Homo sapiens: one gene and its partners. The protein of the gene in region 6 purifies or fractionates together with the protein of the main gene of each other region. This does not show direct contact. Each region holds a gene or a part of one and is shown on either strand. Other genes may lie near its edges. The genes, in order: SERPINB12, CASP14, TRAF3IP1, IFT172, EIF4B, IFT88 and CLUAP1.

The links.
Region 1: the proteins of IFT88 (region 6) and SERPINB12 purify together in Homo sapiens (co-immunoprecipitation; one large-scale study listed by IntAct). This does not show direct contact.
Region 2: the proteins of IFT88 (region 6) and CASP14 purify together in Homo sapiens (co-immunoprecipitation; one large-scale study listed by IntAct). This does not show direct contact.
Region 3: the proteins of IFT88 (region 6) and TRAF3IP1 purify together in Homo sapiens (affinity purification with mass spectrometry; one large-scale study listed by BioGRID and IntAct). This does not show direct contact.
Region 4: the proteins of IFT88 (region 6) and IFT172 purify together in Homo sapiens (affinity purification with mass spectrometry; 2 studies listed by BioGRID and IntAct, with this or other methods). This does not show direct contact.
Region 5: the proteins of IFT88 (region 6) and EIF4B purify together in Homo sapiens (co-immunoprecipitation; one large-scale study listed by IntAct). This does not show direct contact.
Region 7: the proteins of IFT88 (region 6) and CLUAP1 purify together in Homo sapiens (affinity purification with mass spectrometry; 2 studies listed by BioGRID and IntAct, with this or other methods). This does not show direct contact.

What each region holds. Positions count from the first base shown.
Region 1 is NC_000018.10:63,566,369-63,569,829, reverse strand, and holds the end of SERPINB12 (serpin B12), read right to left. Parts: intron 3,224-3,461; coding exon 2,819-3,223; 3' UTR 501-2,818; downstream 1-500. UniProt on the Homo sapiens protein: Inhibits trypsin and plasmin, but not thrombin, coagulation factor Xa, or urokinase-type plasminogen activator. May play a role in cell differentiation.
Region 2 is NC_000019.10:15,055,637-15,058,793, reverse strand, and holds the end of CASP14 (caspase-14 precursor), read right to left. Parts: intron 2,810-3,157; coding exon 2,705-2,809; 3' UTR 501-2,704; downstream 1-500. UniProt on the Homo sapiens protein: Non-apoptotic caspase involved in epidermal differentiation. Is the predominant caspase in epidermal stratum corneum. Seems to play a role in keratinocyte differentiation and is required for cornification.
Region 3 is NC_000002.12:238,393,518-238,397,017, reverse strand, and holds part of TRAF3IP1 (TRAF3-interacting protein 1), read right to left. Parts: intron 1-3,500.
Region 4 is NC_000002.12:27,458,744-27,462,243, forward strand, and holds part of IFT172 (intraflagellar transport protein 172 homolog), read right to left. Parts: intron 3,094-3,500; coding exon 3,016-3,093; intron 2,775-3,015; coding exon 2,526-2,774; intron 2,351-2,525; coding exon 2,272-2,350; intron 1,087-2,271; coding exon 966-1,086; intron 780-965; coding exon 635-779; intron 126-634; coding exon 36-125; intron 1-35. UniProt on the Homo sapiens protein: Required for the maintenance and formation of cilia. Plays an indirect role in hedgehog (Hh) signaling, cilia being required for all activity of the hedgehog pathway.
Region 5 is NC_000012.12:53,030,456-53,033,955, reverse strand, and holds part of EIF4B (eukaryotic translation initiation factor 4B), read right to left. Parts: intron 151-3,500; coding exon 1-150. UniProt on the Homo sapiens protein: Required for the binding of mRNA to ribosomes. Functions in close association with EIF4-F and EIF4-A. Binds near the 5'-terminal cap of mRNA in presence of EIF-4F and ATP.
Region 6 is NC_000013.11:20,640,157-20,643,656, reverse strand, and holds part of IFT88 (intraflagellar transport protein 88 homolog), read right to left. Parts: intron 2,368-3,500; coding exon 2,259-2,367; intron 203-2,258; coding exon 52-202; intron 1-51. UniProt on the Homo sapiens protein: Positively regulates primary cilium biogenesis. Also involved in autophagy since it is required for trafficking of ATG16L and the expansion of the autophagic compartment.
Region 7 is NC_000016.10:3,525,004-3,528,503, reverse strand, and holds part of CLUAP1 (clusterin-associated protein 1), read right to left. Parts: intron 2,093-3,500; coding exon 2,020-2,092; intron 1-2,019. UniProt on the Homo sapiens protein: Required for cilia biogenesis. Appears to function within the multiple intraflagellar transport complex B (IFT-B). Key regulator of hedgehog signaling.

The DNA of each region.
Region 1 (3,461 bases), on a different chromosome or scaffold from region 6:
TCAGGAGTTCAGGACCAGCCTGGCCAACATGGTGAAACCCCCTCTCTACTAAAAATACAAAAATTAGCTGGGCGTGGTGGCGGGCGCCTGTAATCCCGCTACTCAGCAGGCTGAGGCTTAAGAATCACTTGAACCCAGGAGGCAGAGGTTGCAGTAAGCCAAGATTGCACCACTGCACTCCAGCCTGGGCAACAGTGCAAGACTACATCTCAAACAAAAAAAAAAGAAAAACCTGTAGTCGGCAGAAATGTCTTCTATATTCTGATGATCAGCTGGCTATCACTCTGGTTTTAGCATTGTCAGTTTTCATCTTTTTTATATGCCTTCATATGTAATTATGATGGAAAGCTGGGAGAAACTATTACTGGGGCAAGATGTATTTTTCCTGTGTAACTGAGATGAATTGTTAGTTTCATAGATTATGTATTTTTATATTTTTGGATGAAACAGTTTGAAGTTAAATTTATATCCCTAAAAAAATCAGTTGGCAACACATCGTATATATTTTAACTAATAACAAAAGTGCTTTATTCATTCAGAAGAAACTTCTTAATAAATCAAAGGTTAGTAAAGAATGTTTACTGATTTACATAAAGATTTAAGATTCTTAATTTTCCTCATTATTGTAAATAGATACATTCTCCCTCTCATGCTTCAAAATCTGAGAAATCCCGATGTAAATGAAAAAAAAATGTGTTTACCAAGTAAAAGAATAAGAACAAAAGAAATGCCGGGCAGTGCAGGCCTATATATAGGTCATGGTTTCCAGCTACGTGTCGGGCAGTGGTGCCAAGTCAGACATGGAAACAGCCCCCAAAACGTCAACCCCAAAAGGAACCACAGGGGACATGAAGTTTTTGGTTATCTGAAATTAATTTGACCCATGGGACATGCATTCTGGATAGGGCACTGCCTCAAACTGCCTCACGTTACCAACGTCAAATTGTTTTAGGTCGTAAGTGAGCTTCAACAATGAGAAGGTTGTATGGAGAACATGGAACTTGTCTCTCAGAGCACAAAGAAATCACTGGGGTAGGTGAGAAAAGGAAGAGGAGGCTAGCATGGGAGCAGGTGTGGTTCACCTGCCTTCTGCAAAAAAACTGCGTGGCCACACTGAACGACTGGTGGCAGCTGGGAGGAGGACAGCCACAAGGTGGGCCAAGGAAACTGAGCCGCAAGCAAGACCTGAAACCCACCTCGATAGGAAAGAGACTGACTCCAAAGAGATGTGAGTTGGACGTGTCAGTGGTCATGGCAGAACATTCAGCTAAGATAGAAATTAGGAACTCAGATTACCACACCAGAGAACAGAGGCCCTGAGTCCGCGAGTAGGAACACTCAGAGGTCAGGCCTTCAGTAGACTAGAGCTTGAGATGAGCCCAATGGCCTTCTTGACAAGGGTTTCAGGTTTTGTTTTGGCTTTTTGGGTTTTTTGTTTGTTTGTTTTTTGAGACAGGGTTTCGCTCTGTCACCCAGGCTGGAGTGCAGTGGCGCCATCTCAGCTTACTGCAGCCTCCATCCCCTGGGTTCAAGTGATCTTCCCACCTCAGCCTCCCGAGTAGCTGGGACTATAGGTGCACACCACCACGCCCGGCTAATTTCTGTATTTTTTGTAGAGTCAGGGTCTCAATATGTTGCCCAGGCTGGTCTCGAACTCCTGGACTCAAGTGATCCACCTGACTCGGCCTCCCAAGAAGTGCTGGGATTGCAGGCATGAGCCATCATGCCCAGCCAACAAGCATTGCTATGGACACCATGCCCAGGCTCAAGCCTGTTGTCACCATGTGGTCTGGCATGAGACCTCTCGGAAGACACAAAAGTCCACGTGGCCAGAAGGCAGAGAGAGGGGCACACGGAGGCCAGCCTCCACGTGGCCAGAAGGCAGAGAGAGGGGCACACAGAGGCCAGCCTCCACGTGGCCAGAAGGCAGAGAGAGGGGCATACGGAGGCCAGCCGTCCACAATGCCAGCAGCACTTCTCTTGACACCTGCCTGTGCTGGGTGCATAAAAGGAGCTAGCCACAGGTGGGAATTCTTGGAGCTAGGGGGAGGAGAGACAGAGGGAAGTGTTTGATGATAATGTTGGGGGACTCAATAAGGAAAACTGAGATAAACCTCCTCTAAATCCACTAGCCACTTTCCTGGGTCAGTGTCAAAATCACAAGACAAATATCATTCCCCTGCTCTGTGCAAAATGAGTGCTGGTTGGGGCAGTCACACATCTTTGAGCTATCACTTAAATACGCCCAAGCCCTGCCTTGTCCTAGGTGAAAAGACCTCACAGGACATCTTCCATGCAGTAGCTGTCAAAGGAAGAAACAGGGCATCTCGCCCAGTGATGACCACAATCATAACTATCCCAGAAACAGAGCTGAGTTTCCAAACACGTTCCGGTCAAACTACCCCAGAAACAGAGCTGAGTTTCCAAACACGTTCCAGTCAAACATGTTCTCTTGCTGCCCATGTTAAAGTGGCTTCTGAGTTTGCCATCTCTTAGAAATGGTCTAATGACCTGAACTTTTAGGATTCCTTCAAAAGGAGGTAGGTACTGTTCTGAATTGTGTTGACCTTCAGGTCACAGAGGGTGAATTTATATGCTTGAAAGTTTAGGGTAGAGAACAACAGCCCTTCAATACTAACAGACTCAGATGAAAATAAGCTACAGGGTGACAGAAAGATCAAGATAAGCACAAGCCGATGGCTGGAGGATGAAGGAGATGCTTTAGATATTACCAAAAACTCAAATGCCCATCTTATGCCAGGGGAAGATTGTATTGATATTTTCCTCCAGCTCCAAAGTACTAGACACTGCTCCCCTTTTAAGGAGAGCAGACCCTGCCATAAAAGAGAATGGTTTGGGTTTTGTTGTGTCTAATGAAAAAGAGAAAAGGGTGGTTGGCATTAAACTCCACCCAAGATCGTAGTGACCTTTCCGAGACAACAGCCCCAGTGGCTGCAGCTGCCTGGGTACCGTTTTCATCCACCTCCACAAAGGTTTTGTGGATAATTTTTGACAAGTACAAATTGGGACTTGGAGAGATTCCAGTAAGATCAGCCCTCGTTTCATCAAAGATATCCGTAATGCCCATGTCTTGTAAAATGGAATTGAGATCATAGCTGTCTTCCAGGGTGAACCGGGGGAAGGACAGGACCACCGATTCTTCTGACATGTTTTCTGAGCTGCTCCAGGCCACCATTTTTTCATAGGTGATTTTCCTTTCAAGCTACAAGAGGAAGGAAATAATATTTAGCATCAGATTATGGGACCACAAAGAATGCCCCAATTACTTCAAGGTGCCTGAGTCCCTTTCAGTGGGCAGTGACAACCTTCAAGACCTTTCCCTAAGCTAGAGAATAGTCTGATTTCATTTAAAACTTCAAGCAAATATCTTTCCTCTTTAGAAGAAGTTAGGGGACAACTCAGGTTCCAGTGTGCTCTGGTGTTTGAGAGACAAGTGTTCA
Region 2 (3,157 bases), on a different chromosome or scaffold from region 6:
CTGTAACTTTACAAATTCCCAACACGTCTGTTTTTGTGAAAGAGACAGGAGCTCGGTGTGGTGGGTCACATCTGTAATCTCAGCACTTTGGGAGGCCAAGGCAAGAGGATTGCTTGAGACCAGGACTGTGAGACCAGCCTCGGCAACATAGCAAGACCCAATCTCTACCGAAAAATAAGAAAATTAGCCAGGTGTGGTGATGCACACCTGTAGTCCCAGCTACATGAGAGGCTGAGGTGGGAGGATTGCTTGAGCCCAGGAGGTCGAGGGTGCAGTGAGCTATGATGGTGCCACTGTACTCCAGCCTGGGTGGCAGAGCAAGATCTCATCTCTTAAAGAAAAAAAAAAGGAAAGAAGACACAGGCTGAAGCTCCTGATTCTCCATTCATGATAGACACACCTGGGAGGAAGCCAGCCACTGGGAAAAAAGAAATTAAATCCATAACTCCTTTTGTATCAGCCTCACTGTTTCAGCACAGAACAAAGATTTCAACACTTTCTTTCAAAGTTTGACAACTGTTTATTGAACACTCATTATGCAGATTAAGGGCTTGTTCCCTGCCCTCCAGAAGTGGTCATTTCCAGCATCTAATCCTGGGTGAGAGGGAAGGATCAATCAGAAAAAAGAGAGGAAATGGCTTTCTGGAAAAAGTAGGGGTGGGAGGTAGTGGAAGAGGGGTAAAGGGAGAGGGAGGGCCCTCCAGCTTGGGGGAAATGGTGATAGCAAAGGCTTAGAGGCAAGGGTGAGTAAGAAGACATTAGCCTTTTTGAAAGAGTGAATTCATGGTGGAAGAGATGGGAGATGGGTTTAGCTAAGTGCTGGTAGATGGCAAAATTGGAAGGGTGTGAGAGATCCTGATGTGCGGTTTGACTTTGGTCTTTATTTGATTGATTGATTTATTTTGGAGACCGGATCTCACTGTCTCACCTAGAGCTGGGATGCACTGGCATGATCATAGCTCCTTGCAGCCTCAAACTCCTGGGCTCAAGTCATCCTCCCACCTCAGCCTCCTGAGTAGCTGGGACTACAGGCATGTGCCACCATACCCAGTTAATTAATTTTTTTTTTTAGAGACAGGGTCTTGCTGTGTTGCCCAGGCTGGTCTCTTAACTCCTGGCCTCAAGTGATCCTCCCGCTTCAGACTCTCAAAGTCGGGAATACAGGTGTGAGCCACTGTCCAGTACCCTGGTCTTTAAATAATATGGTATGTTGTGTCTTCTTGAGTGTTCCAGGGAGATCACTGTTATAGATGGTATGGAGGACACATGAAAAGTGGGATGGAAAAGCAGAGAGGCAAGGGAGGAAGTTGGTTGCAAAGATGCAGATATGAGAAGCTGAGGACTTGAGCCTGGACAGTAACATGTCAGGGAAGAGAAGACCGGCATGAAAGTTGTTTCAAAATCAGGCTGGACTGGGCATGGTGTCTGGTGGCATATGAAGGATGCAAGAAGAGAGGGGTCATAGATTGACTGCAGAAATCTGAACCTGGGATCTGAGGTTGAGGATACCAGGGAACGCTTGGAGGAGTAACCGGGAAGAAAAGCCCTGAGTTTTTAGTGACGCTGGATGTGCCCGTAGGTTACTTGAGCAGGAAAGGTCAAAGCTGGGGATGGAGAGATACAGGCTGTAGAGTTGGAAGATAGTGAAGCCGATCTGACTTCCAGCCTGGTGCTGCAAGGTTACCTGGAGGTAACCTTGGCTGGTGGTTATTGAAAATTTCTAGAAACTTCCAGAAAGCTCCTACCTTGGAGATAGGGAAAATTTTTATTAGTCATCTTCACTAATTAGAAAAGTTTTCAGATGGATCAGGATTTAGCAGGTTGTGGAAAAGAGGCTGGGCTGGAAGTCAAACCTTGTCCTTGCCTCTGTCTTACTGTATTGCATTTGACAAATTATTTAACCTCTCTGGTTATGAGAGGTTAAATATTATGTTGTCTGCAAAATAGCAAGGTGACAACAGGGAATTTGCCATAGCTCCAACACGCTCTCATTTAGAGTAATTGAATGCAAGAATAGTTGAATAGATGGATTTTCTTGGAGAGAGGGCAGAGTCCAGGGTTTCAGGGGAGGGGTGTTAGGAGGAAGAGATCCAGAAAGGAGGAGACAACTTTATTATCTAGAGAGGCCATGAGCTAGGAAGAGAACGGAGTTAGGACACCAACTTGCCAGCCAAGGAGGAGTGGTTTTGGAGAGAAAGAATGGTTCTTACCTTACTAACTCTCCAGGGTAAAGGAAAGAACTGGAAGTTGGGAATGCATTGGCCTCAGGAGGAGGTTTGACCTCCAAGTGAGATGCAGGAGCCAGCAGAGGTTGGATTGGGGTAGGAGGGGATGAGTGGGCTTTGGTTTGTCTATGGAAAATCTTGAGCTTTATCCAGTTTCTGCTTCATGGGAGAAAGAAGACCACAGGAACAGAAAGTGGGATAAGTGAATGCACTCTTAGGTCTCTTCGGTTGCATTAATAAAGATAGAAAGTCCAGCCTGAGGGAGGTGATGTTAATGTTGCCACCATGCCTTGTGCTAAGTTTTGGCTGGCTTGCTCTAATAAGGACAGGAGGACCTGCATGAAGGGTGTGATGGAAAAGAAACTGGGTGCCATTTGGCCTTGGGAACAGAAGATCTTGGGGAGAGGTAAGAGCTGCCTCTAAATTTCTGTGAGACAGAAAGAATGCTGGAAGGAAAGCTCCTCCTGGTCTTTCTACTTCTACTGCAGATACAGCCGTTTCCGGAGGGTGCTTTGGATTTCAGGGTTCGTTTTCCTTGCTTTTCCTTCTTGAACCAGCTCTGCTTCTGCCATCCGCCGGGTCACCTGCAGCAACAGGTGTGGTGAGCTTGGAGGAGTCAGTGTCATGGACTTATGGGGGGAGGGTTAGGGAACGGGGCAGGTGGGTATTCTTGTCCTAAGATGAGAGACCGTTGTGGCCTCTTCCTATACCATAGTTTGTATGGAATCCTTGGCTGGGCATTTTTTAAATAATTTGCAATAAAAACATATAAACATTAAAAGAAAACAGTTTGCCCAAACATTGTTTATATCCAAGGGGGATTTGTTTATAGAAATTTATCTCCCATACTGTGGCTTTTAAGAGTCCCTGCATTTGGGAAAGTTGTTGGAAAGTGGGCTTCTTAGTTTCTGTATTGAGATCTGGCTTGGATT
Region 3 (3,500 bases), on a different chromosome or scaffold from region 6:
AAATGACTTCAAAACCCAGCTTGCCAGGGGGCAAGGGGAAAGAAACCCAAAGGAGAGGCAGAAACTGGTGCCATGGAAAGGAGGGCATGGAGAATGTGCAGGGCAGCCAGCGCCAGCAGCAGCCAGCAGCAGCCAGCAGCACCCAGCAGGCAGATGGTCAGGTCGACTTAGACGTGACTGTGCTGGCCGCTCAGGGAGGCCACAGAGTCCAGGGGTCAGGGGCCAGATGGAAGGGGTCAAGTTGAGACAGCAGCAGGTGAAGGAGGTGAGGAGGACGCAGAGACGAGTGGGGAGCTGCATGCGGTTTGGGCCAGGAGTTCTTGGGTTCTTTGCCATGCAACATTTAGAATTCTCTTCATATGAGCTTTGATCACAGACATCTCTGAATGTCAGAAACTGATGTGAGTTGATAAGAATCAATAAGCTTGGGAAAATTAACATCAGTTCTTTCTCCTTCTTTCCTTTTTTTTTTTAATTTTTTTATTATTATTATACTTTAAGTTTTAGGGTACATGTACACAATGTGCAGGTTTGTTACATATGTATACATGTGCCATGTTGGTGTGCTGCACCCATTAACTCGTCATTTAACATTAGGTATATCTCCTAATGCTATCCCTCCCCCCTCCCCCCACCCCACAACAGGCCCCGGATTGTGATGTTCCCCTTCCTGTGTCCATGTGTTCTCATTGTTCAATTCCCACCTATGAGTGAGAACATGCAGTGTTTGGTTTTTTGTCCTTGCGACAGTTTGCTGAGAATGATGGTTTCTAGTTTCATCCATGTCCCTACAAAGGACATGAACTCATCATTTTTAATGGCTGCATAGTATTCCATGGTGTATATATGCCACATTTTCTTAATCCAGTCTATCGTTGTTGGACATTTGGGTTGGTTCCAAGTCTTTGCTATTGTGAATAGTGCCGCAATAAACATACGTGTGCATGTATCTTTATAGCAGCATGATTTATAATCCTTTGGGTATATACCCAGTAATGGGATGGCTGGGTCAAATGGTATTTCTAGTTCTAGATCCCTGAGGAATCGCCACACTGACTTCCCCAATGGTTGAACTAGTTTACAGTCCCACCAACAGTGTAAAAGTGTTCCTATTTCTCCACATCCTCTCCAGCACCTGTTGTTTCCTGATTTTTTAATGATCGCCATTCTAACTGGTGTGAGATGGTATCTCATTGTGGTTTTGATTTGCATATCTCTGATGGCCAGTGATGATAAGCATTTTTTCATGTGTTTTTTGGCTGCGTAAATGTCTTCTTTTGAGAAGTGTGTGTTCATATCCTTTGCCCACTTTTTGATGGGGTTGTTTTTTTTTTGTAAATTTGTTTGAGTTCATTGTAGATTCTGGATATTAGCCCTTTGTCAGATGAGAAGGTTGCGAAAATTTTCTCTAATTTTGTAGGTTGCCTGTTCACCCTGATGGTAGTTTCTTTTGCTGTGCAGAAGCTCTTTAGTTTAATTAGATCCCATTTGTCAATTTTGGCTTTTGTTGCCATTGCTTTTGGTGTTTTAGACATGAAGTCCTTGCCCATGTCTATGTCCTGAATGGTATTGCCTAGGTTTTCTTCTAGGGTTTTTATGGTTTTAGGTCTAACATGTAGTCTTTAATCCATTTTGAATTGATTTTTGTATAAGGTGTAAGGAAGGGATCCAATTTCAGCTTTCTACATATGGCTAGCCAGTTTTCCCAGCACCATTTATTAAATAGGGAAACATTTCCCCATTGCTTGTTTTTGTCAGGTTTGTCAAAGATCAGATGGTTATCTTCTTCCCTTTCTTTCTTCTCTCTCTCTTTCTTTACAGCCAGGGTCTCACTATGTTGCCCAGGCTACTCTCAAACTCCTGGGCTCAAGTGATCCTCCTGCCTTGCCCTCCCAAAGCGCTGGGATTACAGATGTAAGCCATCATGCCCTGCAACACTGTTTCTTTAGGAAGCCCTCCCTGGACACCCCCCCACCCACTCCAGACCGGTAAGGGGCCCTTCCTTGCCTCACCCACTTACAGAATGAGCTAGTAAATGCACTCAGTTGTAACAAATCAACTTATTTAATTTGAACGTATCATAGCTACATATTCACTTGCATTACTTCTGCTAGTTTCAGACTGTGGGCTCAGGAGGGCAGGACCTTGTGCCTAGATTCACTGTGATTCACATAAGCTCTGCCTAAGAATTTGTGAAATGAACTAATGAAGTGGATAAATGATTTATGTATGAAGATCCTAGTTCCACCATTTACTGGCTTGGACAAGTACAAGAAAGCTTTAGCATAATGCCTGGCACATAGAAAGTGTTAAATAATTGGGACTTTAAGTAAAACGTAAAACTCATACAACTAATAAGTGAGTTCAGCAAGGTTGTAGTATACAAGATGAGCATATGAAAATCAACTATATTTCTATGTATGAGCAATGAAAACATGGACACTGCAATTAAAAATACAATGCCATTGACAATTGTTCAATAGAAGACTATCCTTAGTTGTAAATCTAACAAAACATGTATAGGACTTGGAAATGGAAAACGAAACAATGCAGATGAAAGAAATCAAAGGAAATCTAAATAAATGAGAAGACACACTGTGTCCATGGAATGGAAGACAGGACACAGTAAAGACATGAATTTTCCCCAAACCGATACGCATGTTTAATGCAAATCCTACCAAACTTGCAGCCAATGTTTTTGTATAGACAAGATTATCCTAAAATGTATACAGAAAGGCAAAGGAACTACAATAGCTAAAACATTTTCAGAAAAAGAATAAAGACAGAAATAACCAGTCTACCCAATTTCAAGGCTTTTTTTTGAAACGGAGTCTCACTCTGTCGCCCAGGCTGGAGTGCAGTTGTGTGATCTTGGCTCATTGCAACCTCTGCCTCCCAGATTCAAGCGATTCTCCTGCCTCGGCCTCCCAAGTAGCTGGGATCACAGGCGCACACCAGCATGCCCAGCTAATTTTTGTTTTAGTAGACATGGGATTTCACCATGTTGGCCAGGTTGGTGTCAAACTCCTGAGCTAAGGTGATCCTCCCATCTCGGCCTCCCAAAGTGCTGGGATTACAGGTGTGAGCCACCGCGTAGGCTTCAAGTCTTTTTATACAATTACAGTAATCAAGACAGTGCAGTATTGACAGAGGGACATAGATCAAATGAACAGAACACAGAATCCAAAAGTAGATCCATACGAATATGTCCATATGCCCAAGCAATCTTTGACAAAGGTACAAAAGCAATTTAGTGGCAGAGAGAGCTTTGCACCATTTGGCACTGGGTTAAGTGGACATCCATAAGCCAAAAAACAAACAAAACGTTGACCTAATCTCATATCTTAAACAAAAATTAACTCGAAATGGACTATGGATTTAAATATAATCTATAAAACTTTAAGATAAAAAACACAGGAGGAAAAAGTCTTTGGGATCTAGGACTAGGCAAAGAGTTCGAAGACTTGACACCAAAAGCATGACAAAAATTTCAAATGTTT
Region 4 (3,500 bases), on a different chromosome or scaffold from region 6:
AGAGTTCTCTTATCATGAACTCCACCCATCCCTACCTTGTGGGCTTGTTCCCAACGACCAGCCTGGGTGTACATGTCTATGGCATCTTTTGTCCGATCTCCCTTAGTATAGAGCTCCTCAGCAATCTGTAGTTGATGGGAGGTAGATACAAAAGGTCAGAGCAACAGACTTAAAGCAGCTTGAATGAGGAAAGAACAAACCTTGGCTGGGATGGTGGAGAGCCTGCGATACAACCTTGTAATAATAGAGAAGAAAAGATGAGTATGGGTGTCTCATACATTCTACCATTTAAAAAGAAAGACCAGCCCCAAACAGTGGAATCCAAAAGGGCCTCACATTTCTGCAATGCAAAGCAATTTTATATCATAACTATGTTAGCATTATTCATGAAGAATCACGCTGACTGGAACACAGCTAGAGACTCACTTTATATATCTGGGGTGAAGGGCGATATCTGTGTCACACTGGAATGAAAATGGGAAAGTAAACTGTTCTCTTCCCCTTCAAGGTGATGATGCTGTTTGGAGCCCAGAAAGAAGGATCTGGTGAACTTGCCTCCACTTCCTGCTTTGGGTTCTCTCATTGTTATCCTCTACTGCATTGCCTCGTGCTGCGGAAAGGGACTCTTCCTCACCTCATACTCCTGCAGGGATGCATAGTGTTGGGCCACGAGAGGATAGTATTTGGATGCAGTGTTCCGGTCCTGTAGATCTAATATATAAATTGCCTTCTTCCACTGGCGGGCACCCAGGGCGGCCTCAATTGCCTTAATGGAGCACCTGGCAAAGTTGGGAAAGATATAAATATGTAGGATGAAAGATGAAGATGAATGGAGGTAAAAGGACCCTTTAAGCACACTTCAACCTACATTTTGAGATCTCTTCTTTAAGGCCTTGGTGTCCTTACTTGCTCCACTGCCCCTCACTTCACACCTAAATCTCCTTTACATTCCCATACTCCCATACCTGGCTTCGATGTAGTGATTAATGGCTGCATCAAGCTGCTTCTGCTGCACCAGGTGGTCCCCCCATGCCTCCTCTAGTTTCACCACCTCCACTGGGAAGGCCAATCGAGCCAGCTCTACCGCTGCCAGGGAGAGAAAAGATGCTCAGCCCAGATTTCCAGGGATGGGCCTCAGGAAAAAGGTAGGACAGGGAGATGAAGCATGGAGAATAGGTAAGAAGGGGAGGAATGGAGGACTGGAGCCAGGCATCCTGAACACACGCACCAAGAGGTGTGGGGAAAAGCAAGAGAGATCAGATTGTTACTGTGTCTGTGTAGAAAGAAGTAGACATAGGAGACTCCATTTTGTTATGTACTAAGAAAAATTCTTCTGCCTTGAGATTCTGTTAATCTATAACCTTACCCCCAACCCCGTGCTCTCTGAAACATGTGCTGTGTCCACTCAGAGTTGAATGGATTAAGGGCGGTGCAAGATGTGCTTTGTTAAACAGATGCTTGAAGGCAGCATGCTCCTTAAGAGTCATCACCACTCCCTAATCTCAAGTACCCAGGGACACAAAAACTGCGGAAGGCCGCAGGTACCTCTGCCTAGGAAAGCCAGGTATTGTCCAAGGTTTCTCCCCATGTGATAGTCTGAAATATGGCCTCGTGGGAAGGGAAAGACCTGACCGTCCCCCAGCCCGACACCCGTAAAGGGTCTGTGCTGAGGAGGATTAGTAAAAGAGGAAGGAATGCCTCTTGCAGTTGAGACAAGAGGAAGGCATCTGTCTCCTGCCCGTCCCTGGGCAATGGAATGTCTCGGTATAAAACCCGATTGTATGCTCCATCTACTGAGATAGGGAAAAACCGCCTTAGGGCTGGAGGTGGGACCTGCGGGCAGCAATACTGCTTTGTAAAGCATTGAGATGTTTATGTGTATGCATATCTAAAAGCACAGCACTTAATCCTTTACATTGTCTATGATGCAAAGACCTTTGTTCACGTGTTTGTCTGCTGACCCTCTCCCCACAATTGTCTTGTGACCCTGACACATCCCCCTCTTTGAGAAACACCCACAGATGATCAATAAATACTAAGGGAACTCAGAGGCTGGCGGGATCCTCCATATGCTGAACGCTGGTTCCCCGGGTCCCCTTATTTCTTTCTCTATACTTTGTCTCTGTGTCTTTTTCTTTTCCAAATCTCTCGTCCCACCTTACGAGAAACACCCACAGGTGTGTAGGGGCAACCCACCCCTACAAGAGGTGCCAGGGAACCAGATGGGCAAGAGTCCACAACAGTAAAGGATGGCTTATAGGTGGCTAGTACCTTTCATGAATGCGTTGCCTTTACGGTAGCACTCCAGGGCCTTCTGTGGATTGTGAATCTTCTCAAAGAGATCACCTGCCTGTTAACACATACCACATTACTATGATACCCCTACAACACAAAGAACTAAGTATTAGCTCCGAAAACAAGGGAACACCAGCAGTCAGGAAGCGCTCTGCACCCCAAGACTCCTCTGGGTAAGGGAAGGGTCCTGAGCTCTGGAGATAAGGGCTAGGAAAAGGAAGCCAGCATACCCTTTCGTAGAGTTCCCCCTTGATAAGGGCTGCAGTGATGTGTTCTACCAGCTCTGTGTTGGCTAGCAGTTCCTCTCGGGTCAGCACCAGCCGAGCAGCTTTGGCAGGGAGCCCAGCTTTGAGGTAGAGGCTGATGGCTGCTAGCCCATCCCCTTGGCTCTCCTGTAGTTCACCTGCTCGCTCCTCTTGCTGTGTGTCCATCAGCCACTGGTAGTAACTACGACGTAGCTTCTCCAGGGCTGGGTGCCCCTGGACATGCACAGAGGACAACTAGGAGTCACATCCCCCTTCCTACCCTTCTGCCTCCCATGCTTCTCCAATCCCTCTATAACAAGGGGAATCCTCCTGGGTCAGCAGTATCCTAACTCCTCACCACATCAAGTCCAAGCCCCAACCCTGTTCTGGTTTCTATGGCCTCCTTGACAAAAGGAGGTTTTTGAAATTGGCAGAACCAAATTCTGAACAACTGTGGAGAAGATAAAACAGGTACCTTGGCTTCAGCCACAGCGATACACTCATCCCAACGGTGTAGCTCCTGGTACATGCCCATGGCCTCCTCCACAGCATTCTAGGGGAAACAGGCAGAGCAGAGAGGGACACCAGAAAGATATGAGGATCAGAAAGCAGCAAGCTCTCCTCAGCCTGGCTAAGATGCCAGCCCATGAGGACCAAAAGCCTTTTAACTACTATACCAACAGAAATACTGGGAAACTAAAAGAAGCTTAAGCTTCAGGGCTCCTTATTTGCACACACCCTTTCCAAGGCAACTGTTCTTTTTCTTGAGATGGAGTCTCACTCTGTTGCCGAGGCTGAAGTGCAGTTGTGTGATCTCGGGCTCACTGCAACCTCTGCTTCCTTGGCTCAAGCGATTCTCCCACCTCAGCCTCCCGAGTAGCTGGGATTACAGGCGTGTGCCACCACTCCTGGCTAATTTTTTGTATTTTTAGTAGAGATGGGGTTTCACCATGTGGCCAG
Region 5 (3,500 bases), on a different chromosome or scaffold from region 6:
CTACTTCTCTTTCTCTAGCAGCTGTGTCAACAGGCTTTGCCCCTCCAAAGATAGAAGCAGCTCGAGTGGACTGGGAGGTACTAGCAGAGGAATCATCTTCCTTAGGAGTACTCCGAGGCTTTAGATTCAGTTTGGGTCTTTGGGGGGGACCTAAGTTAAATGAAACTTTAAGTAATAGTTTTCCAATCACCAGAAGCTGATGGCTGAAAGCCAGATTTCTCAGATATAACTCCTATGAAATGCTACATGAGATTCAAGTTAGTGGCCTAACCAATCCACAGAAGGCAAATAGATCATTAGAAAACAGGTAGTTTAGGCTGGGCATGGTGGCTCACGCCTGTAATCCCAGCACTTTGGGAGGCCGAGGCGGGTGGATCACAAGGCCAAGAGATCGAGACTATCCTGGACAACATGGTGAAACCCCGTCTCTACTAAAAATACAAAAATTAGCTGGGCGTTGGGGCGCGCACCTGTAGTCCCAGCTACTCAGGAGGCTGAGGCAAGAGAATTGCTTGAACCTGGGAGGCAGAGGTTGCAGTGAGCCAAGATCGAGCTACTGCACTTCAGCCTGGTGACAGAGCAAGGCTCCGTCTCAAAAATAAAAAAAAGAAAAAAAAAAAAGAAAATAGGTAGCTCAGGCTGGGCGTGGTGGCTCACGTCTGTAATCCCGATACTTTGGGAGGCCGAGGCGGGTGGATCACCTGGGGTCGGGAGTTCGAGACCAACACAACCAACATGGAGAAACCCCGTCTCTAGTAAAAATAAAAAATTAGCCAGGCATGGTGGTGCATGCCTATAATCCCAGCTACTCGGGAGGCTGAGGCAGGAGAATCGCTTGAACCTGGGAGGCAGAGGTTGTGGTGAGCCAGGATCGCACCACTGCACTCCAGCCCTCCAGGCTGGAAAACAAAAGCAAAACTACGCCTAAAATAAATAAATAAAAATAAATAAAAATAAAAATAGGTGGCATAAATAACCAAGTTCTGGCCGGGCGCAATGGCTCACGCCTGTAATCCCAGCACTTTGGGGGGCTGAGGCGGGCGGATCACCTGAGATCAGGAGTTCGAGACCAGCCTGACCAATATGGAGAAACCCCATCTCTACTAAAAATACAAAATTAGCCAGGAGTGGTGGCACATGCCTGTAGTCCCAGCTACTCAGGAGACTGAGGCAGGAGAATCGCTTGAACCCACCGGGGAGGCGGAGGTTGCAGTGAGCTGAGAACACACCACTGCACTCCAAACTGGGCAACAAGTGCCAAACTCCATCTCAAAAAAAAAAAAAAACAAAAAAACCCAAGTTCAATTACTCTTCTACCACATCCATGATGTAGTACAAGACCACAGGAAAGACTAAAAATGGTAAACATTTAAGTAATAAATTAATAATCTATCAAGACTTCTTTTATATGGGAAGAAATTTTTGACCATCATTAAACTACTGGATGAAAGTATCTTGCTCCGAAATCTGCATGTTAAGAACTAATACAATATGATAGGGAAGATTCTAGTTCTTTATTTTTTTTGAGACAGTCTCGCTCTGTCACCCAGGCTGGAGGGCAGTGGTGTGATCTCAACTCACTGCAACCTCTGCCTCCCTGATTTTCCTGCCTCAGCTTCCTCAGTAGCTGGGAGTATAGGCACGTGGCACCATGCCCAACTAATTTTTGTATTTTTAGTAGAGATGGGGCTTCACCATGTTGGCCAGGCTGGTCTTGAACTCCCGACCTCAAGTGATCCGCTTGCCTTGGCTTCCCAAAGTGCTGTTACAGATGTGAGCCACCACGCCCAGCCAGGAAGACTCTAGATCTTATACCCTTGTCTCTGTGTATAATATAAATTTGGCAGGTGGTTCATGGGGCAAAGCATGTAACACTGAACAAATAAACTCTTAAGGCAGGCAGTCTGATTTCTTCCTCAATTCAAGTTGTCAGAACACTTTCAAGAGAAACCTAAGTGTTTCAAGGAAGTTAAATTTCTAAAAATGATTGTTTGTCCTAAATATTTTGGATATACAAAAGATACAGAGAATATAAAGAAAGCCTATGTATACAATCACCTGGCTTAAGTAATGTAACCTTAACAAAGAGGTAAAACCTCCTGATGACATGACCAGCTGTACTCTGTCCTCTAAATAACCACTAGATGGTGACTTCATCATGCCCACACTTGATTTTATACTTTTACTACATATGCACATAGTACCTGTAGATAGAGGGTACTGTTTAACAAGATCTAAATTTTCTACGAGGGCTTTAAGCCGACAGTTTATATATGTTCCTAAACATATTTTAAATCTGTGTTATAGCCCCGTCACTTTTGTAAGATAAAATAGGGGCTCAGAAAAAGTAGCTCATTTAAGATATTAATAAAAGAACGCAGCCGGGCACAGTGGCTCACGCCTGTAATCCCAGCACTTTGGTAGGCCGAGGGCAAGTGGATCACTTGAACTTGGAAGTTTAAAACCAGCCTGGGCAATGTGGAGAAACCCCATCTTTAGAAAAAATATCAAAATTAGCCAGGCATATGGCACGCACCTCTAGTCCCAGCTACTGGGGAGGATGAGGAAGGAGGATCACTTGAGCTCAGAAGGCTGAGGCTACAGTTAACCATGATTATGTCACAGCAATTCTAGCCTGGGCGACAGAGTGAGATCCTGTCTCAAGAAGAAAAAAGTAAAGGCTGGGCAAACAGTGAAGGCCCGTGTATGTCAGAGGTATAGAGAAAGGGCTATGTTCCAGGCCATGGGGAAACTAGACAGGTCTAAACAGGAGAATAAGGTAATTAGATCTTATGCCAGAAAGACAACTGACAACTGGGGCCAATGTGAAGAACGGAGCAAGAAAGGGAACTCTGTTAGGAGGCAATGGCCAGTAACGTGGGTGCAGCAATGAGGCCTCAACGAAGGTAGCAGCAGCAACTAGAGACAAGAGGGCAAATCTTAGAGGGAATGGGGGGGTAAGAGCAAGAAGAGAAATAAAAAATTAGGTATGCAGCTCTTGGTGGGGAGGTAAGGGACAGTGTGAGAGAGGAAAAGGTCAGAAGTCAAGGAGAACATGAGGCCCACATCTGAGCCTCCACTTTTCTAACTTGTAATTTTACCTATACCACACAGAAGTCTTAGAATTAAACAATACTTGTACAAGCCCTCAGCTCACTGATGGAACAGAGTAAATGGTTAATAAATGTTAGCTATTATTTTTAGGCTTCTTGCTTGAGGAAATCGCTTTTAAGAACGTAGTTTTTTCACTGGGCGCAGTGGCCCACGCCTGTAATCCCAGCACTTTGGGAGGCCGAGGCGGGCGAATCACAAGGTCAAGAGATCCAGACCATCCTGGCCAACATGGTGCAACCCCGTCTCTACTAAAAATACAAAAATTAGCCGGGCGTGGTGGCAAGCCCAGCTACTTGGGAAGCTGAGGCAGGAGAATCACTTGAACCTGGGAGGCAGAGGTTGCAGTGAGCCGAGATCGCGCCATTGCACTCTAGCCTGGGCAACTA
Region 6 (3,500 bases):
ACAATTCATAAAATGCTAAAACACAGAAGGAAATTAAGATAACACACCTACCTCATAGTAATATTGAAATGCTTGAGATTTATCTCCTTCACGATCATATAATTCTCCTAGCTTAGATAAAACTTGAGGATCGGTTGGAATAACACTGACCACCTGCATTAGCCATTCAATAGCTTGACTGGGATTTTCCATTAATTCATATCTTATGCAATGTCAGTTAAGGAAAACATGTTTTCTAAATTCATTAAGCAATAAGCAAACTTAAAAAACATTACAGTAACAATATTTCTTAGCCTACAGTAATGTGCTATTGTATACTGTTTCCTCTGGATATCTCAGGGGTGGAGATGGAATGCAGCAGTACTGTGGAGGTAACACTCTTGCTCCCTATGTATATAGCCTGCTTTCCCTTTTCCTCCATTACTATCCACTAAGATCAACTCCCAAATTTCTGGTAGAATTATTCAAAGTATTGTCCAAAAATTGTCCTTAATAAAAATGTCCTGAATGTTGCATCCAGTTATTCTTTTTCTTAACATGTTCAGCATATTAAGGAAATTATTTCCATGTGTTTTTCCTGTGAGTTTTCCCTAATTAGATTATAAACCCAAGGACAGTGTTGTTTTTTTTTTTTTTTGTAGCTTCCTTTTAGTACCTACTAAGTCTTCGGTGTATATACAAATAATTTATTCATATCAGTACTTTTTGATTAATTACTATTTATTTTATACATATTAGATATCTCAGTGAAATGAAAATATTCCAATTCAAAGTTTATTGAAAAAGAAGCATTGTTTTCAATGGTGACAAGAGTGACACCAGAAGATCTACTGTTTTTAACGATGACAAGTGTGATACCACAAGAAAAAAAAAAAAGAAAATGTACTCAAACAGTCTCAAATACATCAGTTGCTTGACTGGATCCAAGCTGATCATGAACTGGGTGGTAAAAGATAATGACACTGGCAGTTTCAGAGAAATTAAATGAACAAAACAGAACAAAAAGACTAACAGGAGTAACTATGATGCTATCTGCTCTAAAACTAATTTTTTTTTGAGATAGTCTAGCTCTGCACCTAGGCTGGAGTACAGTGGCACTATCTTGGCTCACTGCAACCTCTGCCTCCCAGGTTCAAGTGATTCTCCTGCCTCAGCCTCGGGAGTAACTGGGATTACAGGTGCCTGCCACAACACCCGGCTAATTTTTGTATTTTTAGTAGAGATGGGGTTTCACCATGATGGCCAGGCTGGTCTCGAACTCCTGACTTCAAATGATCCGCCTGCCTTGGCCTCCCAAAGTGCTGGGATTACAGGTGTGAGCTACTGTGCCTGGCCTAAAACTAAAATTTTTCAATAAAATTCTTTATCAAAAGTACAGCAGATAGTACTTAAAATTATTAATGGTACACCTCACAACATATAAAATTTTCTAAACATATTTGTATAAAATTTAAACCAAGATAACAGTAAGTTGAAAATCTACCTAAGATGTTTAACTCTTCCCAATGTTGTGGCCAAAGCTTACCAAAATAAGGAGAGAAATTAAAAGTGCTTTTCAAATAGCATGAAAAGCATTAAAAACATTAACACATTTCTGCTTTTCTAACCAAGAGCAGGGCTTATTAAGAAAGCTAAGTGTTGTGGAAGAAACTGATATTAGCGCAACATTTTGTAGTTCTACATTCCCCTGAGTTTGAAACATAATACTGATACACATAGTATACATTCAATAAATGACTATTAAATGAACAGAATGAATGAGTTCATATGAAGAATTACATAATTTTAGAGGGTAACAGTCTTTGGAGACCTCATTATATCTACAGGCCAGCTAAAAAAGTAAGAAAAATTATCCAAATTCAATCAATAGTAATCAGTAATAAACAGTATTTTATTTAGTAAGTTAGTGCTTCAATGATACCCTACAAGCTTCAGAATTAATACAACGTTCTAAAGCACCAAATTGACTTTCAATGAATGGCTTATATGTACCGAAAATGTCCTAATTACTTCAGTTATTTTCAAAATTTAATAAATAATAGTTTTAACCATTAATTCCTCTTTCGATGCAAACTACATCTTAAAATAGGATTACTCAAATGATATTTATCACACAATAATCTGCCAGATTATCCTCATCACTTACTTCAAATATTATCCTCATCAATTACTTCATTAGTTAAACTTATTTAATAATTGATCTTCAATCACCAATTGAGAGAATTAATAACTGTCCCTAAGGTTTTCAAATAAGATACATATTTGCTATCTGGTAAAGAACTTCGGCACTGTTTCGTAGGATTGCGTGAAGTTTCAGGAAACAGTCCAAAGCCTCATCTAGCCGATTTAGTTTCTCATAGGTAAGGCCTTAAAAAAAGAAGAAAAAAAAGAAAATCTATAAGTATCATTATTGGTATTAATTTATTTAACATAACAGAATAAATCTCAAAATATATGAAAATATTTATCCAGAAGAGAAAATGAAGATGAACTCAGGTTTTTGTTTTTTGATACAGGGTCTCACTCCTGCTGCCCACACTGGAGTGTAGTGGCACAAACATGGCTCACAGCAGCCTCGACCTCCCAGGCTCAGGTGATTCTCCCACCTCAGCCTCTCAAGTAGCTAGGATTATATGCACGTGCTACCACGCCCAGCTAATTTTTTGTATTTTTAGTAGAGACGGGATTTTGCCATGTTGCTCAGGCTGGTCTGGAACTCCTGGCCTCAAGCGATCCACCTGCCTCAGCCTCCCAAAGTACTGGGATTACAGGTATGAGCCACCACACCCGGCCAACTGAGGATTTTTTTAAAGAATAATGTTAGGGTGGGGATTCTCCACTGGCAGACACCAAAAGATGCTACAAAGCTTCAGTGATTTTAAAAGTGTGGTAGGGGGCAGGAATAGACAAACAGACCAATAGAACAGAATAAACAGTTCAGAAATGCACTCAACTATAGAGTTTAGTTAAAGACATTTAAAATCAGTGGGGAGGAAAGTGCTAGTAATAAGTGGTGCCAGAACAACTGACTATACATTAATTTGTATTTATTTATTTATTTATTTATTTATTTATTTATTTATTTTGAGACGGAGTCGCTCTGTCGCCCAGGCTGGAGTGCAGTGGCACAATCTCGGCTCACTGCAAGCTCCGCCTCCTGGGTTCATGCCATTCTCCTGCCTCAGCCTCCTGAGTAGCTGGGACTACAGGCGCCCGCCATCACGCCTGGCTAATTTTTTATATTTTTAGTAGAGACGGGGTTTCACTGTGTTAGCCAGGATGGTCTCGATCTCCTGACCTCATGATCCGCCTGCCTTGGCCCTCCCAAAGTGCTGGGATTACAGGCATGAGCCACCACACCTGGCCATTAATTTTTTTAAATGTAGATTCTTATTTCATAAAAAATGAACTCAAAATTTTGAAACTCAACAGAAAAAACAAAGCTATAAGAAGAGTATGAAAAGAAAATACAGAAAAATGATTTATAATCTTGAGTTAAG
Region 7 (3,500 bases), on a different chromosome or scaffold from region 6:
AAAAGGGGAGGGCTGCTTTGGCTAGACAGGCCCTTCAAATTTCCTAACCTTGTTCCTGGAGGATTTCCCAGCAGTCCCTATCCTTCCTCCAAAGTTTCCTGAGATTCAGACGAGAGAGTCACAGAACAGGTGCAAAATGAGAGAGATACAAGGGAAATGGCAAAGAAAGAGAAAGAGAGAGAGAGAGAGTGTGTGTGGGAGCATGTGTGTGGGCCTGATGCCTCAAGTATGCTGCCCTCAACATGAGAGTGAATAGAATATTTCACCCTGAAGAAAAGAAAGGGCAACCAGCAAGAGGAGGAGGAACTCCGTGCAACAAGGCCATCAATTCAGCAGGAAGATCCTGGGCTGCTACCGGTCCCTGACAGTGACTTGACACTGAAGTTCAGGGATGTAGGGTACAGCCCCACAGGGTCGGTGGGTTTTCTCCCCATGTGCAGAGATGAGAGACTGTAGAAATAAAGACACAAGACAAAGAGATAAAAGAAAAGACAGCCGGGCTTGGGGGACCACTACCACGAAGACGTGGAGACTGATAGTGGCCCTGAATGCCAGGCTGTGCTGATATTTATTGGATACAAGACAAAGGGGCAGGGTAAGGAGAGTGAGCCATCTTCAGTGATAGGTAAGGTCACATGGGTCACGTATCCACTGGACAGGGGGCCCTTCCCTGCCTGGCAGCTGAGGCAGAGAGACAGAGAGGAGAGAGAGACAGCTTACGCCATTATTTCTGCTTATCAGAGACTTTTAGTACTTCCACTAATTTGCTACTACTATCTAAAAGGCAGAGCCAGGTGTACAGGACAGAACATGAAGGCAGACTAGGAGCATGACCACTGAAGCACAGTATCACCGGGAGATGGTTAGGCCTCCGGATAACTGCGGGCGGGCCTGACTGATGTCAGGCCCTCCACAAGAGGTGGAGGAGTAAAGTCTTCTCTAAACTCCCCCGGGGAAAGGGAGACTCCCTTTCCTGGTCTGCTAAGTAGCAGGTGTTTTTCCTTGACACTGACGCTACCACTAGACCACGGTCCACTTGGCAACGGGCGGCTTCCCAGACGCTGGTGTTCCCACTAGACCAAGGAGCCCTCTGGTGGCCCTGTCTGGGCATAACAGAAGGTTTGCACTCTTGTCTTCTGGTCACTTCTCACCATGTCCCCTCAGCTCCTATATCTGTATGGCCTGTTTTTTCCTAGGTTATGATTGTAGAGCGAGGATTATTATGATATTGGAATAAAGAGTAATTGCTATAAACTAATGATTAATGATATTCATATATAATCATATCTATGATCTATATCTAGTATAACTATTCTTATTTTATATATTTTATTATACTGGAACAGCTCGTGCTCTCGGTCTCTTGCCTCGGCACCTGGGCGGCTTGCCGCCCACACAAGGATAAGGGAAGCTGCCTGGTCACAGAGAGCTCCTTCCCGGAATCTAGGCTTTGCATGGACGTAACCCTGTGTCTCTCCAGCTGAGTGTCTTGCTGAGCCATTCTGGATTATGGGGGGCATCTCAGCAGCATGGGGACCATCACAAAGCGAGCGGCCCCTCTCCCTGCACTGCATCCCAGTGCTTGCTTTCCATCATTCAGCCTGAAAATACAGAACCCTACACACATCTAGGGCCATGTTTTCTTATAGTTACGCATCATATATAATTCAAACTATCATTTAAACAGGGGAAAACACTATCTTAACTGGCACAAGAACGAAATGTGTTTTAAATGCTATATTTAAACCAGACTCTTGAGTGAATACAATGGTACCCAATATAGAAGTTGTGAGAAAACCGCCTTTTGAAAATATTTTTGTACCTATAGTCAACAATAATTTATTATACTTTTCAAAATTGAAGATGTAAAGTGAAGTGTTCTTACTACAGTAAAAAAAAAACTGCTGAAAAAAAGAAGAAAATACATATTAAAAAATATATATATATCTCTCTATATATATTTCAAGGCTGAAAATACTAGTCCAGAGTAAACTGCTCGTCTACGAAGCCCAGCCTTACTTCCACTCTTGAGCAGGCGCTTCTCTTCCTCCTTGAGCTTGTTCTGTATCAGGCAGAGAGTGTTTTTAGCTTCCTGTGGAAGAGGAAATACAGACTCAGGAGAGATGGCCCTTTTCTGGACTGTTCTATTCTTCTTCACCACTGTGTAAGGACTGCTAAGTTTGTGCTACAGAACAAAAAAAGAGCTAAACTCAAGGAAGGGGAAGAGAATTAACACTGCCTGAGCAACTCCAGGGTCCTGAAACTTACTGCCCTTTCTCTCTGCGGTTGCCTCGTGGCCTGGTGGACAGGGGCGCCCAGAGTGAAGCAGCTGCCCCACCCCATGCTTCTCCGATTGCATTTCCCTGCCTCTGAGGAGAACTAAATGCCCATCACGCATGCCTGTATGACCTGGGGACACAGAACAGACACATCTAATTTTAGGGCAGAGACAGGCCTCCTGCTTTCAAAGGAAGAAAGTATAGATTTTATCATTTATCTTTCCTGCCCTGCCTTCAGATTCCAGCTCAAAAGATGCTAAATGGTGGGACAGGTAAGGATGGGAACAGGGGTGGGGACAGGAGGAAATATCTCAGATCATAAAATGTGGCCTTGATTATTATCAAGAAAGAGAATGGGGGCTGGGCGTGGTGGCTCACACCTGTAACCCCCACGCTTTGGGAGGCCAAGGCAGGAGGATCACTTGAGCCCAGGAGTTTGAGACCAGCCTGGGCAACATAGGGAAACCTCATCTCTACAACAAATTTAAAAAATTTAGCCAGGTATGGTGGCAAGTGCCTATAGTCCCAGCTACTCAAGAAGCTGAGGTGGGAGGATCGCTTGAGCCCAAGAGGTCTGAAGCTACAGTGAGTTATAATCACACCCTGCCCTCCAGACAGAGTGGCAGGCAACAGAGTGAGACCCCGTTGAGAAAGAGAAAGAGACAAAGAGAGAGAGTGGGGGGGAGGGACAGACAGAGGGAGGAAGTTGGCTTTATATATTGTTGTTCTAAACATTAAAAATAAAGCACTGTGTTTCCGGCATGGGGTATTTCGAGGGAACAGGTATTCTAACGACAGAGAGCGAGAGTGAGTAAGAGAAAAAGAGATGTACTTGTTGAAGGAAGGGTAGGGTAGAGGGGCTCCCTGGGAAGTTTCCTGGGCCACCTACCTGCCACTCTGAGGCATACTGTTTGGTTTGTTCTCTGAACCCAGAGGTGGCCCCAGATAATACAAAAAAATGGCCAACGTTTCTTTTCACTGCCCTTGACTGTTCTTTCCCAGGTACCCAATGTTTAAAATGTTCTAAACTCCAAGCTCTTTCTAGTGCCCTCGAAATGTGCCTGTCCCGTACCATTTCTCCATGGCCTGCCTCTGCCACAGAGTAATGCTAGCAATGAATTCCTCGTCAAGATGACATGTGTCCACACGGATGCGTTAGGTACTCCCAGTTAGCCCTCCTGGACAACAAAATAGCTCTGCCAAACTCAAATGCTCAGTATT